4 linked regions of the Homo sapiens genome follow. The protein of the gene in region 1 interacts with the protein of each later gene in a pairwise test. Each region holds a gene or a part of one and is shown on either strand. Other genes may lie near its edges.

Region 1 (4,758 bases):
TTGCTTGAACCGGGGAGGTGGAGGTTGCAATGGGCCAAGATTGTGCCACTGCACTCCATCCCGGGCAACAGAGTGAGACTCTGTCTCAAAAAAAAAAAAAGTACTAATCTTCAGTTCCTCAGACTGTGACTTTATTTGGAAATAGGGTCACTGCAGATTAAGTTAGTTAAGATGAGGTCACATTGGAGTAGGATGGGCCCAATATGGCTGGTGTCCTTGTTTAAAGTGGAAACCTGGACATAGACATGCAAATTGGGAAAATGCCATGTAAACATGAAAGCAGAGCTCTATGAGCTAAGGAATGACAAAGTTTCCCAGAAAACCACCAGAAGCTAAGAGAGAGGCCTGGAACTGACTTCCCCTCACAGACCTCAGAAGGAACCAACCCCACTGACGCCCGATTGCAGACTTCTGTTTCTCATAACTGTGAGACAATAAATGTCTGTTGTTTAAACAGAAATGTATTTAAAACCAAGTAATGTAATATATTATTACCCAGTGTATGGCAATTATTTCCCCGACCTCATTCATAGACAACCTTCATAATTTGTTATGAAAATTAATAATGTACCCCCCAAAATACTGTACCCAATTTGTAGTACATTATTAAGGCAGCCCTAGGAACCTAATATAACATATAGCAAACACTCAAGAAATTGTTATTTTATTAGTCTACTCAGGCTACTTACGACTCCCCTTTGCAGAAGTTTATGAGGACCAAGCCCAAGAATTTCTGGTTAGCCGGAAATGGAGGTTGAGTCTGTGGATGTCAGGTAGTGTGCTTCCTATCCATGAAAATCCAAAACAGGGTATGAAAGTGGAGTGTGTCTAACTCAAAACCCATGATTAGGAAGCACAGTGGGAAAAGAGCTGGCGAGGTAAAGCTCAATACCAAGAGCAAGAGTCAGGAGTCAGATCTTAAGACAAAACAAAGAGTCAGAAATCCAAAAGTAACTAGTTAGAACAGGAGGCACATGAGGATCATTGGTAAATGTTACAATGATTGCTTAAAAAAGAAATAAGTTAGCTTAGCTGGGCTCATTGGGCTGGCCAGATTATGGGTGTGTTGCGTATGAATGTGTTGGACTCACCTCTGTATCTATAGAGGTGCTGTTTAATATGGTAGCCACCAATCATGCATGGCTGCTTAAAATGAAATTAAGTAAATTTTAAAATCTGGTTCTTCAGTAGCACTAGCTGCATTTAAAGTGCTCAATAGCTACATTTTACTGTATATTACAGAATATTGCCCTCGCAGCAGAGAGTTCTATTAATAGCTCAGGGTCTTCCATGGCCACGATGCCAAAGTACAAGCAGAGATCTAAATTCTGAGTTCACCCTACATTTTCAAATCATCCTAGGTTTACAAAACTGCTTTGACAAATGGTATCAGAAAGGGTCAAGTACATGTAAAACTTTACACAGACAAATAATGGGTGCTTAGCTACAGGTCCATGTTTTCCAAGTGTAGCGCTGTTCAAGCACCAGCAAAAACATTCTCAGATCACGTTGTCACAAACTCTCTTTACTGCTGTTTATTGCCTCATCTCCTGAATGTTAAAGGGAAGCAAGTCAAAACACCTGCGATGATCAAGTGTTTGTTTAGTATGAAATTAGGACTTCCTGCCATTCTAAACTTGAAAAGCCGCAGTCCACAGTTATCAGTCTATAAGCTGTGATATGTGTCTAGCAGCCCTTTCAGTGAAGGCTGGCCACCCTTGCTCAGCTCTCCAATTTCCTCTACATGGATGTTCTCAACCAGTGTGAAAATGTGGAATTGTGGCTATTTGTTCACATGATTTGCACAAAATATTCAGCCGGAACCTCCTCCAGCTGATAGAAGGAATAACACAGAGGAGAAGAATTGAAGTTGCAGAGTGTGGGGGTTGTGGGGGTGGGTTAGGGAGGGACTGTAAAAATGAGTCAAAGTAAAAACCCTTATCAATACCTAGATGATGGGTTGATAGGTGCAGCAAACCATGACGGCACACGTTGACCTATGTAACAAACCTACACATCCTGCACATGTACCCCAGAACTTATTAAAATTAAAATTAAAATTTAAAAAAGCATACAGTCAAATGTGTTATATACCAAATTTAGAGACCTCCAAGTTGTTTATGCTACTTGGTTAAGTTATTTATGTCTGTTTTAGTGCATACATGTTATTTGAAATCCCTATAATTATGAGTTGAGAAGGCTGGAATTTGCACTAGACTTCTTCTCTCCCTTTCTTAATCAGAGTGGATTCATTTGTCTATTGTGAAATTATTTAAGGAAGCACACGTGAACCACATTTAATAAATGGCAGGCAAGGCTCAGGCACATGTTTCAGCACGTGTTTGCTTTCCTCCTGTTACAACAGTCAACTGAGCAATAAAGAATGAATACACACACACACACACACACACACACACACACCCCTTATCATGACCTTGGCTACTGCCTATACAAGAGTAAGCAGTTATTCAGTGAAGGAACCAGCGCAAGAAAGGAGAAAAAGTAAACTTTCATCTTCTCCTCTTCCTTCTCCTCCTCCTTTTTTGCATTATTGTTGATTGAGCGAGCAAGATATTCAATTGGACCAATGGCTGAATGGCTAAATGCTGTGTGTGAGCAGGAAAGCCTATATTCTATTCCTGAATCCTCTATAAGAAGTTCTTCAATCTCTATAACTCTCTTGGGTGCTCTGTGCCTCATTTTGCAATATGGCAGAAGCTTTACTCCTATCCTCTCTTCCAGGGATGCAGAGTAATTTAATGAATTGCGTTATGTCTGTCACCATACACAGAGTCCCTGAGGCTGGGGCAGTTGCTGAAGTGATACACGTGTTCCTGTTGTCCCAGAGGACTAGAGATAGCACCATTAATCTGTCTGTTATCTGAATTAATATTGAAAACACACATTCCCACATACACATTTGTTTTATCCTGTGCATCAGAAATGTGTCTCTAAGGACTTTCCAACAAGGCTTTGCTTCGTGTCTTCCACTTTTACCCTTGGTTTGACTTTGCAGCACCAGCCTGCTGTTATTGCTCACTCTATGAACCGTACCTGCTCGGTGCCATCCAAATGTCAGCCGCTTAGAGGGAGGCTTCGATGACAACCACAGGGAGAAGAGACTGAGCAGGAAACTGGTCAGGTCAATTAAGAGGTGGGCAGCATCTGTGACAACAGCAAGACTCCCAGCAATGTGCCCACCTAGAGAATGCAAAATAGTACACTGTGTTAAGGTCCCAGAATGCAGCTAGATTCACAGACATGCTAACCATCATGGGTGAAAATGCCACAGACTCACAAAACTTTAGAGGAAAAAGAGATCTTAAAGTTGATTTAATTCACCCCTTCTGCGACTCAGAGAGGGGATATGATTTGAACATGTAGAAATCAATTTCAAAGGAGAAGCCATTCCTGGGGTAGAAAAGACATAGAGACTAGAAAGTGTGGGGCAGGCACATCTGGAGAACACCTTAATTAGACTGGGTATAAGGATTCAAAAGAGGAGAATACAAGAGAATCAGGCTGAAGCAGTGCGGGTCAGATTCAAAGAGTCTCATAATCCAGACTGAGGACATGGACTTTTGTTTATAAACTAGATGTTGCGATCTGGCCCACAGATGTGTTTTTATTTGACTTATAATTTAATCAGCATCTTTACCCTTTCCTTTTTCTCTATTAATATATATTATCCACCTGAGCTTGAAATCCCTGTAAGAAATAACAGGGAGCAGAAAGGAGAAAGGGCAGGTACCTTCCAATGGGCGTCCTCAGTGCTACAATCCAATAAAGCATAGGGATGCAATGTAAGCCATGAGAGTCCTGCCTGGCTTTTCCCTTTATTTGATGTGCTCCCTCTACTTCCCTCTAATCCTCCTTTGAGAAAAGACCTCCAGCCTCCAAAATAGAAGTTAAAGAAAAACCTTGCCCTTTCCTTCCCAGACATGGTTTGTTGTTTGAGAGCAATAACCTTTATTGCTCTTACTACATCTTCCCAGCAAAGGGCTTTTGCTGACTGATTAGTTCTCCCTACAGCTGTTTATTGCCTTGTGTACTACAAAATAGCAGAGACTGTCAGCCATCAGCCCCGCCATCATCAGACTCACCTTGTCTCGCCTAATTTTTAAAAATTACATAGATGGCTCATAATTGCAATAATCCCCACAGGCCATTGGCTCTAGCCGTAGTTAATAACTGGTTTGTCAAGGTTTAATGGGCTGAAGCAAAGTAATCTTCAAGCTTGTTACTGAACAGTCACTGCAAAAATCAGAATGATTCATTACCCAAAAAGCAACATTTTGCTAACAAATCAGCTGTCCTTCCAATTATCCTCTAATGTTGCTCTATCTGCCAAACTTGGTCCTGATGATAAAACTGTGTTAATAAGGCATTATTTCTTGCCCAGAGAATAACTCCATGCAGATAAGCAGTACGCTGCAATCACAGCAATGAGTGATGACGATTCTATGTGCTGGGCTGAAATATAGTCTAAATCAAGGAAATGAAGTCAGTTTTATAAACTCTCTTCAACAGTCTCAGCTGAGGCAGGAGGCACCTGAGAAAGAAAAAGGGCTTGCTTTGGAATAAGCATGTTACTATGGAGGCTTGGAAACTGAGAACCATTTTGCAACCTTCAGAGCTACTTATAAGAGCCATCCAGAAAACTGCGGGCAGTCACTGATGCATAGAGCAAACTGCTTGCAAGAGGTAGTTTGTGACTGATCTTGCATTTGCTTCTGAAAGCATGGAGTATTACTGACA
Region 2 (4,803 bases), on another chromosome or scaffold:
GCCCCATCTTCACTAATGGGCTCAGCACCTCCAACTGTCCCATCCACTAGATTTGCCCTGATCCCTTCTCCTCTCTCATGCCTGAGGCCCAGCTGACCACCAAATCTGACCAGGTCTACTTCAGAAATTCAATAAGATAACCTGGGTGGAAGTGCTGGTGCTATGCCTAGCCACAACGGGTACTCTATGTGAAGTGAACTGTAAATGTCACCTTAGTTCCTACAGCTTTGTGTTTGAATTCTGCATTATTCCAGATGACTGTCAGCTCTCACCAAGACCAGAGAAGAAGCCTCCCCACTGGTATGGCTGCCCCCAGACCTTCCTTCTTCTGGATGTCTTTCTCAAACTGCAAAGCTGGTCGTGTCCCATTAACTAAAGGACAAGCTCCAAATTCCTTACCATGGCATCCCAGGCCCTGAAGAGTTGAGCCCCACTCCCTCGCTACCTTTACCTTCCTCCCCTCTGCCTCTCGTAGCCACAATGGCCCACTTGCCTTATTCTTTTACCACATTGCTTTGATCATGCTACTCTTCTGCCTGGAATGTCTTTCCCCATCTTCTCTGCTTGGTGAACTCTTATCTCACCTACAAAGCCCAGCTCACCTTCTCTGTGAAGCCTGTTTCCTCCCCATCAGGCAGCAAATAGCCTCTCCCACTAGACCTCTAGCCCCTAAAAGACATGGACAGCTTAATGCATGTTGGTATTGGCTACCCCTCACCCCTATATCCTAATTAGCTAATTCTATTCCCTTATATTTATATCTCCCCATTTATCAAAACTTTCCATAGGTCTGGCACAGAGAGCCACGGGGAGGAGGCTGAGGGGAGGACAGGCAGGAGCACTGCAGGCAGCGTTGGCCCAGGCACCAATGAGACCAAGCAGGATCCAGGGAGCTTCGCCTCTAGAGTGTCTCCCTGGTTTATAAGGTGCTTTCCTCCCTTCCCTTATTGGAGTCAATTTGTGCTGGCTCTACCAGCCTGCATCTCTGAAACACACACTCACACACACCTGCACTCATGCAGAGGCCCACCCAGTGCCGCAAATACCAATCCTCAATCCTAAGAACAATGCCTTCACATATGTTCCATGGCAGGTGTGATGCCAGGTCTCCCCCAACACACACACACACACACACACACACACACACACACACACACACGATCCCACTGTGTTCTCCCAATCAGCCGTACAAGGCTCAGAGCTGAGGGGGAGGGACTCTTTCTGCCAAGGTCACAGAAGTGGGACATGAAGGAGCAGGGATTTGAATCTGGGCCTGGAGGTTGCCACAACATGTGCCATTTTCAGCCCACCACGCTGCCTCCACAGCACGTGAACCCATGAATCTATCAACAGTTACTCATTAATACCCAGCAATATTCCCTCCTCCCCTCCCCTCCCCTCTACCGTCACTCCCATCAGCCTACCAACCATCCCAGAGCCAGCTCTATTTAAGAGCGGGGGCAGGAAGGATGCTCCTCTCCACACCTCTGCCATCCCTCTGCTGTCCCCCAGGGTCCAGCCTCCTCACTGGGAGAAGGATTATAATAGCAGTGGTGACATGAGTGGCTTTGGCCCCAAGGACTTCTCCCAGTGACCTCTGCTCAAGGAATTGCACAGACAGAGGCAAGTTGACTGTAAACTGCCTGCTAAATGACTACAAACCAGCCCAGACCGCTCCAGCACTGAACAGAATGACAGCCCAGGGTTGGCCCGTGGAGGGGGCAGGGCTGGGGAGAGCCGGCCCAGGCCCCAGGGAGCCATCCCCCTTCTTCCCTGAAACCCTGAGCACAGCCACCCAGGTGGGAGGAGAGGAGGTGTGGGGGTTGCTGAGGACTGCCTGGACCTGGAGCCCTAGATATTAGGTCCAGCAGGGCCCCCAGATATACCCCCTTTCCCACCCCCCCCTCCTAACTCACACAGTGTACAAATGAGGAAACTGAGGCTCAGAGAGGAAAGGGGCTTGAGCAAAGTCTCCCAGGCAGTAAGAGACAGAGCCCAAGTTAGAGTCCCTATTTCCCTCCTTTTCTCCCTGGGTCTGTACCTGACCAGCTGTGTGACCTTGGAAGTCACCCAGCCTCTCTAGGCATTGAAGATTCGCAACTCCTGGCATTTCCATTCCACAGAGCTGTTGGGAGGATCAGTATGGGTAACAGTGGTAGCCCTTCATCTATAAATAACACCTTACAGTTTACAAAATATTCCTATATCTTATCTCTTCTCTGATCTTTATAATGACCCTGTGAAGCTCTGTGGAAAATAGGGGCAGGGATCTCATTTGCAGATGAAAAAAATGAGGCTCAGAAAGACAAAGGTCATAGAGAGTTTGGAACAGGACTTGAACTAGAACTCAGGACTCCCAAACCAGTGCTCTTCCCATCACTAAATTACACATAAGGCTGAGAATACATGAAGACTCTAAAGGATACTGCCCAGTGCATGCCACCAAGGTTAGACCTGACCTACCCTGGAGCTCTCAGTCGCTCTGGGACCCAGAGGTAGAAGACCCAAGGTGAAGGGTGACGTGTAAGTCACACGCATCTGAGCTCCAAACCTTGCTCGTTAGCTGTGCAGCCTCTCTTTCTGGACCTCAGAAAGGCTCAGAAGGTGGAACTACAGAAAGCACCAAAAGGCTTAGGATGAGGGCTGAACTGCACCCTGAACGCAGGAGTGCCTGGCAGGGGGTCAGCGCTCATTAGCTTTTGTTTCAAGCACATGGTGTGTTGTGTTTGCTGTGTCTATACCATAGCTTCCGGCTCAGGGCTCCAGATCCAGGGGCCTTCTGATCAACCCTTAGGCTAAGGGATGGATGGATGGATGGATGGATGGATGGATGGATGGATGGGACAGACGCTCAGGAGAGCAGAGAGAAGACCGAGTCAAAATGAGAAGAATGAAAAGACAACTAAAGGATAGGGGGTGAGGCATGGCATACAGGCACAGTGTCCAGCCCTCCTGGCCCCAGCTGACCTGGCCCCACCCAGCCCCACTACCACCTACCTTGGGGTAGCACTGGCACATGCTCCAGATGATGCCCCCGATCACCATGACGCTGCCCATGGCATAGAAGGTGCCGTAGACCTGGGGCCGATCATGGCTCATGAGGAACGTACCGAGGGCCAGCAGGAAAAGCCCCAGCACAATGAAGCCGATCCGGAAGGTCTTCTCGTCAGCCATGGCTGCCTGGCCAGTCCCTGGCCTGCACACCCCCGGGAGAGGGGGTGGCTGTAGTTCAGCCTAAACACCGAGACAGGCTTACACAGGGAGAGAAGACACTGAAATCGCTGCAACTCAAGGCTTCAAGGGAGAGCAAGATCCCTTTCAATCCCGCTCCAGTCCCTGGGCCCACCAGTTCAACAGGGCTGGAGGCGGCTCGCTTCAACGGACCCACACCCAGCCACCTTTACTCCTTGCCCTCTCACCTTCCCTCTGGGCCCGGCTGGCCTGGAGTGTGTGTGTGAATCTGAGCGAGGGAGCACACAGGGGAGGGAGAGTGGGAGGTTACCGGGGCTGGGCCCCAGCCAAGGCTTTGACATCACCTCATTTGCCTACTGTGGGGTTGAGCTGGGTGGACAGGCAGCCTCACACCTTCCAGCTCTAGAAAACAGGGTACAGTTCTGCAGCTGAGAGCTGTTAGAATGCTATTGGAGGATTCCAGGATCCCACAGGCTGGCATTTCAGAATCCTGAAGAATTCTACACTCTTCAAGGACATGTGCCTATCCAGGGTTCAGGAATAATGGCCCATATGTACTGGCTGGTGACTATGTGCAGGGCACCATTCTAAACATGTTACAGCTATTAACTCATTGAAGGGAACCCAGTGAAGCAGCTACTACTATCCCCACTTTACAGAGGACCCTCGGGCACAGACAAGTAACTTGCCCAAGGTCACACAGCTAAAGATGGCAGAGCTAGTGGGATGTGAAGCCAGAGGCCGTGGGCCTAGCCACGGCGTGATACTTCTTAACTGCAGCTTGAGGGTGAAAAGCGTGGCTCTGGTGGCAAGGCAGGCTGCCTGGGTTTGGATTCTGGCTCCTCTACTGTGGGGCAGTGTGGTCATGATCAGGTTACCTCAGTTTCCTCCTCTGTAAAATGGGAATAATAATGTACCTCCCAGATTTGGTGCTGTCTCCAGGCCTGGCCTCCTTGGGTTCCTCCATCCCCTTCACATTCACACGCTATGCACCACCCAGTTGGGCTTTCAATGAACTGCTCCCCACCCACCCCTAAGGCTCTCGGAATTAGTGCCCCTGCAGGGTGTGAGTGACTGACAGTCACTTCCTCCATTTCCTTGCAGCCTGATCTAGGAAGATGCCTTCCTAAGAATAACACTAATGAGGCATTTTAGTCCTAGGGACAGGCTGATGGAAGAAATCAGATTCCTTTACAGGATTACAGGAAAATGAGGACCATCGGTCTCTACAAGAGAATGTTCACTTGGCGTTTACATGGGGTTAAATCGCCGATGCAGGATAAAAGGCTTTCAATGGGCTCCCTGACTTGCTGGGCTTGGGGATTTCCTGTTGGCGGTCATCACCTTCTCCCCTCCTGCCAGCAGGGCTGCCCTTGTTCCCTAACCCCACACCTGTGCTCACAGCTGCCCCTCTAACTAGACGTCCTTCTCATAGGCCCTTTTTCCAACAGGGGTTTCTCCTTCCTCACACCCACCATCGCCAGCCCTCAGAGTCCAGGTGCACTTGACAGTTCGCAGAGGAGGTCCTGGAGGGAGCTCAGGGGCCCTGGCTGAGCGATGGCTGAGGGGCAGGAAAGGGCTGAGTTATCAGGTCATGTCCAGGTCTGGTTC
Region 3 (4,128 bases), on another chromosome or scaffold:
TGCAGTGGCGCAATCTCGGCTCACTGCAAGCTCCACCCGCCCAGGTTCATGCCATTCCCCTGCCTCAGCCTCCAGAGTAGCTGGGACTACAGGCACCCGCCACCACGCCCAGCTGATTTTTTGTATTTTTAGTAGAGACGGGGTTTCACTGTGTTAGCCAGGATGATCTCGATCTCCTGACCTTGTGATCTGCCTGCCTTGGCCTCTCAAAGTGCTGGGATTACAGCCGTGAGCCACTGTGCCCGGCCGCTCCCAGATCTTCCAAGAGTACTTTCAAACAGTAACACAGACATACAGTAAAAAATTCATATTCAGTGACATACGAATCTCCAAGCTACCATATTTCACTTTCAGGGAAGTTAGGCAGCAAAATAAATTCAAATTTACTGTGACTAGAACTTAGGAAGGTTGCATTAAAATTATGTTAACAGAGGAGGACAGGCAACTTTCAAATCACATTAACATGTTTATGAAGATTTGCTATAAATAAATGGAGTCATGACTGCCTAAAATGAATTCTGATAGGGCCTCTTTAATTTGCATAAATACATTTTAATAAAAACACTGCCTACACTCAATAAAGCACGGCAAATAGAATGTTATATATTAATTCCCAATTTCAAGCCCAAAACATAAAACAATAGATTCAAAATAATAAGCTGTTACTCACAGATATATTAAAACAAATAGAAAAGTGGTATTTCCATGTGAAATACTCATCTTAAGGATTTAAGCATGTATAATAAGATGCTGTTTGCACCTATTTACCTGTTTGACCCAGACAACCTTCACTGTAACTATCACCTCGGACTTGTCCATTCGATACTGCATTAATCCTGTATGAATAAAATAAAACCAAGAAATCAGGGTCCATGACACCAATTACCAGAAACAATAATCTACAGTTTCTCAAATGTAAGGTTAGGCCTGAAAGTCTTTTTTTTTTTTTTAAAGATACAGGGTCTCACTCTGTTGCTCAAGCTAGAATGCAGTGGCACAACCATGGCTTACTGCAGCCTTGAAATCCCAGGCTCAAGTGATCCTCCCACTTCAGCCTCCTGAGTAGCTGGGATTACAGGTGTGCACCACCACACCCAGCTAATTTTTAAAAATTTTTGTAGAGACAAAGTCTTGCTATGTTGCTCAGGCTGGTCTCAAACTCCTGGCCTCAAGAGATCCTCCTTGCCTTGACCTCCCAAAGTGCCACTACACCTGGCTCATAAGCCTTCAGTTCTTGAGTAAAGAGTTCATATGACTGGTCTCTTCAACCAGATACTCCTTTTTTTTTTTTTTTTTTGAGACGGAGTCTCGCTCTGTCTCCCAGGCTATAGTGTAGTGGCACGATCTCGGCTCACTGCAACCTCTGCCTCCCAGGTTTTACGCCATTCTCCTGCCTCAGCCTCCCGAGTAGTTGGGACTACAGGCATGCACCACCTATGCCCGGCTAATTTTTTTTGTATTTTTAGTAGAGATGGGGTTTCACCGTGTTAGCCAGGATGGTCTCGAACTCCTGACCTTGTGATCCGCCCGCCTCGGCCTCCCAAAGTGCTGGGATTACAGGTGTGAGCCACTGCGCCCAGCCAGATACTCTCTAGAGCAGTGGTCATGGGCCCCAGGCTAGCGGAATCAGCATTACTTGGCAACCTATTTGACAAGAAAATTCTCTTGGCCCTAACCCAAACCTAGCAAAGCAGACACTCTGGGCATGGGGCCCAGAAATCTGAGTTTTAACAAGTCTTTCAGGTGAGTCTCGATTGTTAAAATTTGGGAACGAGGCTGGGCGTGGTGGTTCATGCCTATAATCCCAGCACTTTGGGAGGCCAAGGTGGGCGGATCACCTGAGGTGAGGAGTTCAAGACCAGCCTGACCAACACAGAGAAACCCCGTCTCTACTAAAAATACAAAATTAGCTGGGCATGGTGGCACATGCCTGTAATCCTAGCTACTTGGGAGGCTGAGGCAGGAGAATTGCTTGAACCCGGGAAACAGGTTGTGGTGAGCTCAGATCGTGCCACTGCGATTCAGCCTGGGCGACAAGAGTGAAACTCCGTCTCTTAAAAAAAAAATCGGGAACAAAATTCTCAAAATTTTCTTTTGCTAAGATTGGAACAGGTAAAAAGATAATTTTGCTTGGTTCTATCTGATATTCCATTTGTATGTATCAGACATAACATGTACTCATGTATGGCAATGGCAGAGGGAGAAAATGGGCCCTGGATAATCCAAATATTTCTTAAAATTGGCTTTGGAATAAATTTTTTTGTAGTAATTTTGTACTGATATCAAATGTTTGGAGAAATAATTATATTTCAAACAATACAATAACTTTTTGCTCTGAAGATATTATCGAATAGAGATTCAAGTGGTAAAATCTTGTTTTTTAAATCCTTGATACAGGCTCTAAACATAAGGTGTTTTACTAACTCTTCATAGCATACCACTCTAAATTGAGATAGGCTTGCTTTCTTTAGAAGTATCCTTTGAAACATTCCAAATGTCATGGGAAAACGTTCACAATACATCAAGTTAAAGTTACAAAACATTATACCTATGATATATATACCCATTTAGTTGTGTGTGTCTAACACTAGAATATAAGCTTCATGAGGACAGGAGCCATTGTCTGTCTTGTTTCTCATTTTCATTCTCAATGCCTAGCACAAGGCTAGGGGCTTCGCACATAGTAGGTGCTCAATAAATGTGTTTAGGTCAGGCCTGGTAGCTTGTGCCAGTAATCTCAGCACTTTGGAAGGCCAAGGTAGGAGGATTGCTTAAGCCCGGGACTTTGAGACCAGCCTGGGCAACATAGTAAGACCTTGTATCTATGAAAAAAAAAAGTGAATATAGGAATCCTAGTTTTTTTCACAGTAATATGATGTCTTAATTTATTCATACAAATCTAAGTTTCAGAATGATCAAAATACTCAATTATTTTCAGTGATCTCTGTACAGTACTAAATTATTTTGTATATAAAATAGATACATTAAAAACAGGTTTCATATATAAAAGTAAAACACAAATAAATGTTCTTGGGTTACTGGTTCTCAGCTCGTTTTCCTTGCTGAGCCATCTGAATAAACTTCAGAGCCCTCTGTGAGCCACCACAATCCTGTCTTCACTATTAGGGACACTTTGGAATGAACAATCTCTATTTGTTCTCTGCTATGATTATTTTTATGTATGTTCTCCAATTTATAGAAAAGTTACTAGTTAAATAATCTTTTTACTGAAACGTCTGGTATTTGTCAACATGATGCTCCATAACTGGGGGCTATAGGTGTGCTCCTGGTGTTGGGGTGTAGCTGTTCTGGGCACTCTTAGCGGACAGAGCTGCCACACTGCTTCTCCTGCCCCATCTGGACAGCCTCTTCACCCTGCTCAGACTCCAGCATCCCATGTAGGGCTGCCTTCTTCCATCCCACGCTCCGCTGCATGGATCCCCTCCTCACCCTGCTCAGGATCTGAGCCCATGCTGAGCTGCCCCTTCCCACCCTGCCTGAGCCCAGCAGCCTGCTCTGGGCCACCACAACTTGTCTTTCTATAGAGGATGCCTCTCATGCTTGACCTCACCTAATAGTTTTTGGACTGAATTTTTCCAGGAAGAGGAAAGGAAGTGGAGAAGAGTTAAATATTACTTTTAAAACATATAGATGTGTGTTAGAGAAAGAGAAAACAGAAGAGAACACTGGTAGAATATCTGTCAAAATGTTATAGTTTGGTGAGATTATAGGCAACTTCGTTTTTGCTTATTGGCATATCCTACTTTTTTTTTTTTTTGAGATGGAGTCTTGCTCTATCGCCAGGCTGGAGTGCAGTGGCACAATCTCAGCTCACTGCAACCTCCACCTCCCGGGTTCAAGCGATTCCCCTGCCTCAGCCTCCTGAGTAGCTAGGACCACAGGCGCGTGTCACCACACCCAGCTAATTTTTTGTATTTTAGTAGAGACGGGGCTTCATCATGTTGGCCAGGATGGTCTCGATCTCCTGACCTCGAGATCCTTCCACCTCGGCCTCCCAAAGTGCTGGGATTACAGGCGTGAGCCACCGTGCCCGGCCTACCCTACATTTTTAAAATTAAAAAATACAGAGTAATACACAGAACATTTATTAATATTTTTAAAGCCACA
Region 4 (4,128 bases), on another chromosome or scaffold:
TAATGATAATTGAATAATTGAATTATGGAAAATCAGTTGTACAGTAGACTTAGAAAAGTTTCTTCAGTTGGTCCATTAAGGTTAGTCATGGTCTTTGGGAGAGATATGCAATGTGTCAGACACCCATGCTTCCATATTTAACGCAAGCTCTCCACTTAGTTGAGACCTCAGCCTTTCAAGTAAACATACAATGGCACTTTTAAGGCAGAGGGTGGAAATCATGGTCCTGTTCCCTGGTTCTCTCCTGCTGCTTGTTTCTTTTGCCATTCTGCCAGGGAAGTTAGCTAGGAAGCCAGTGCACAGCCATCCTTTGATCTGTCTGTAGTTGAAGAGCAAAGAGAATGTGTTTTTTTTTTCTTACCACAGAAATATGGTCCAGGGAGTCCTGGGAGAATCAGACAAAGGATGATATTAACACTCTTCCCTTTGGACAGCAATTGGTGAAGTCAGGGAATTATTGTTAGCATCTGTTTTCTACATGTATCAAACCCTTATCCAGTATATAAGTCTTAGTAATTGCTGTGATTTTCTATTTGATTTTTTTAATGTTTCTTGTTTTATTTGCTTTAGAATGTTCGGGACCCAACAGGAGCCTCCATTGCCCTCTTTACTGCCAGGTTGCATCATCCCCACAAGTCAGTCCAACATGTGGTACTTCAGGCTCTGTTTTACTTGCTAGACAGAGCTGTGGATAGGTAAGCATTGAGATTATTTTTTAGGTATTCTACATGCAGGTAGGAAAGTGACAGTTTTTTACTTGATTAAATTCAGCAGTGCCTTCGCCATTCTCCTAGGATGTGCCCTGGGCAATGCTATGAATAGAAAACAATCCATGTCCTTTAGAACTCGGCATGTTTGCAGGCACTATCAAGATGGTGGGCGTTCTCTTTACCACCTTGGCTCTATGTCAGGAAAACAGAAGCTGAGAAAGTCAATTATCGGCAATCTTCAGTGTATGGAAAACTACTTATTGGAAAAGAATGAGGGGGAGATGACCTGTGCTGGTTCTTTTTGCTCATATCAGAACCTCTAAGGCCTCAGTTTCTTTGTCTGCATAACAGGAATAATGCCGTTTAGTTCAGAGGATTTTGAGACTCAACATTCAGGGGAGGGCTGGGTGCAGTGGCTCACACCTGTAATCCCAGCACTTTGGGAGGCTGAAGCAGGTGGATTGCTTGAAGCCAGGAGTTGAGACCAGCCTGGACAACATGGTGAAACCCTGTCTCTGATAAAAAATACAAAAAATTAGCTGGGTGTGGTAGCGTGCACCTTTAGTCCCAGCTTCTTGGGGGAGGTGGGGGAGGTTGCTGAGGTGGGAGGATCACTTGAGCCCAGAATGGTGAAGCTGTAGTGAGCCATGATCACGCCACTGCATTCCAGCCTGGGTGACACAGCAAGACCTGTCTCAAAAAAAACCCCACAAAAAAGCCCACACAAAACAAACAACAACAACAAAAAAACATTCAGGGAGAAGCCCAGAAGTATAAAGTTAAGCAAAAACCATCCTTAATAAAAAGAGGTGCATAAGCATAAAGAACCAGCTCAGGTCATCACTCTCTTCCTGCTAAGGTAATTGGTATTGTTACAATTCAATTGACAATTAAACTCAAGCCCCAAGAAGTTTTTTACAGTCATCATATGTTAGTCCAGCTGGTTCTAAGATCCTGGTTTCTTCACTCTTGGGCAGAGTTATTTCTGTCCTCCCATGCTGTTGTTCTGCTATTCCTTTTTCCCTGGTGCTTGTAATTTACAGTTTCTTACTGCTCTCGACATCTTTGGCTGGTCCTCCGGATTAGAAGTGCTATATTGAGGCCAGGCGCATTGATTCATGCCTGTAATCCTAGCACTTTGGTTGGCTGAGATGGGCAGATTGTCTGAGCCCGGGAGTTTGAGACCAGCCCTGGGCAACATGATGAATCCACTCGCTTCTTGAGGGCAGGAAACTTTCTTTTTAACATCCGAATCTCTGTAGGTTGAGAGAGAATGGTATCGTGAACATCCACATATCCATCATCCGTCTTCTTCAAAGTGATCTGTAACAGTCTTGTTTCATTGGTAGCCCCTCATGGATCTCCTATCCTCAGTTTCTTTCTTTTTTGTTTTTTGAGACTAGGGCTTGGTTTGTCACCCAGGCTGGAGTGCAGTAGCATGATTGTAGCTCACTGCAGTCTTGAACTCCTGGACTTAAGCAATCCTCCCATCTCGGCCTCCCAAAATGCTGGGATTACAAGCATAAGCCATTGCATCTGGCTTCTCCGTTTTTTTAAAACCAATGTCAGGGACTGTATTTTAAACTTCTTGGTGTTTTCTGTAACATGTAGCTCAAGAATTAAAAAAATATTTTTTTTATTTTTTTTTTCCTTTGAGACGGAGTCTCGGTCTGTCCCCCAGGCTGGAGTGCAGTGGCGCTATCTCAGCTCGCTGCAAGCTCCGACTCCCGGGTTCGTGCCATTCTCCTGCCTCAGCCTCCCGAGTAGCTGGGACTACAGGCGCCTGCCACCACGCCCGTTTTTTTTTTTTTTTTTTGTATTTTTAGTAGAGATGGGGTTTCACCTTGTTAGCCAGGATGGTCTCGATCACCTGAGCTCGTGATCCACCCACCTCAGCCTCCCAAAGTGTTGGGATTACAGGCGTGAGCCACCGTGCCCGGCCCATTGTAAATCTTAAACTGGGTGCAGTGGCTCATGCCTGTAATCCCAACACTTTGGGAGGCCAGGTGAGAGGATCGCTTGAGCCCAGAAGTTCGAGACCAGCCTGGGCAACATAGCAAGGCCTCGTCTCTACAAAAAGTTTAAAAATTAGGCAGCCAGGCATGGTGGTATTTGCCTGTAGTCCCAGACACTCACGGAAGGCTGAACTGGGAGGATCACCTGAGCCCTGGGAGGATCACCTGAGCCCTGGGAGGATCATCTGAGCCCTGGGAGGTCGAGGCTACAGTGCGCCATGATTGTGCCACTGCACTACAGCATGGGCAACAGAGTAAAATGCTGTCTTAAAAATATATATATTCTGGTGGCTCACGCGTGTAGTCCCAGCACTTTGGGAGTCCAAGGGGGTGGATCTCCTGAGGTCGGGAGTTTGAGACCAGCCTGGCCAACATGGTGAAACCCCGTCTCTAGTAAAAATACAAAAAATTAGCCAGGCGTGGTGGTGGGTGCCTGTAATCCTAGCTACTCGAGAGGCTGAGGCAGGAGAATCACTTGAACTTGGGCGGAGGTTGCAGTGAGCAGAGATCGCACTATTGCACTTCAGCCTGGGCAACAAAAGCGAACTCTGTCTCAAAAAAAAAAAAGTATATGTATATATATACACACATATATAAACACACACACATCTATCTATCTATCTATCTATCTATCTATCTATCTATCTATCTATTCTATACCCTAAAGTGTGAAAATCTTACTGCATTCATGTTTTATGTGCCTTCACAGGATGAGCACTTTGATCTGGGAATATAGAACCTGGATCATTCATTATGCATCCAAGCTTCTTTTTTTTTAAATTCTCTTTGCCCCCTCACTGACTTGTTTTTGTTTTAGTCCCCTGCCACAACCTGGAGTCATGAGGGGAAAGCCCATAATTTGAATTTGACCCTTGAGGAGCTCATGGAGAAATAGAAAGTATCTAGATCTGGATAGCCTATTCAATAATTGTGCCACACATTTTCTTTGTTTCTTTTTATTTAAGAGACAGGGTCTCACTTTTGCTCGGGCTGAAGTGCAGTTGCATCATCATAACTCACAGCAGCCTCAACTCCTGGGCTCAAATGATCCTCCTGCCTCTGTCTCCCAAGGAGCTGGGACCACAGGCACGTACTAATAAACCCGTCCAATTTTAAAATTTTTTTGTAGAGGCGGAGTTTCACTCTGTTGACCAGGCTGGTCTCGAACTTCTGGCCTCAAGCAGTCTTCACATCTCAGTCTCCCAAAGTGCTGAGATTACAGGTGTGAGTCACTGGACCTGTCCTGTGCCACACATTTTAACAGCATCTTGGACCTTTGTGGATCATAGTCTCTCTGGGGTTGTGAAAAAGGAGTCAAGGGCAGGGCGCAGTGACTCACACCTGTAATCCCAGCACTTTGGGAGGCCGAGGGGGGCAGATCACTTGAGGTCAGGAGTTTGAGA

Evidence for each region. Proteins that work in one complex are often made in the same cells at the same time.
Region 2: the proteins of SLC30A8 (region 1) and BSND interact in binary tests that used the Homo sapiens proteins (3 or more experiments, as listed by UniProt).
Region 3: the proteins of SLC30A8 (region 1) and TMEM50A interact in binary tests that used the Homo sapiens proteins (3 or more experiments, as listed by UniProt).
Region 4: the proteins of SLC30A8 (region 1) and PTPN9 interact in binary tests that used the Homo sapiens proteins (3 or more experiments, as listed by UniProt).

The regions. Positions count from the first base shown.
Region 1 is NC_000008.11:117,151,387-117,156,144, reverse strand, and holds part of SLC30A8 (proton-coupled zinc antiporter SLC30A8), read right to left. Parts: intron 3,202-4,758; coding exon 3,055-3,201; intron 1-3,054. UniProt on the Homo sapiens protein: Proton-coupled zinc ion antiporter mediating the entry of zinc into the lumen of pancreatic beta cell secretory granules, thereby regulating insulin secretion.
Region 2 is NC_000001.11:54,997,558-55,002,360, reverse strand, and holds the start of BSND (barttin), read right to left. Parts: upstream 3,429-4,803; 5' UTR 3,175-3,428; coding exon 2,998-3,174; intron 1-2,997.
Region 3 is NC_000001.11:25,348,334-25,352,461, reverse strand, and holds part of TMEM50A (transmembrane protein 50A), read right to left. Parts: intron 837-4,128; coding exon 769-836; intron 1-768.
Region 4 is NC_000015.10:75,519,688-75,523,815, reverse strand, and holds part of PTPN9 (tyrosine-protein phosphatase non-receptor type 9), read left to right. Parts: intron 1-570; coding exon 571-695; intron 696-4,128. UniProt on the Homo sapiens protein: Protein-tyrosine phosphatase that could participate in the transfer of hydrophobic ligands or in functions of the Golgi apparatus.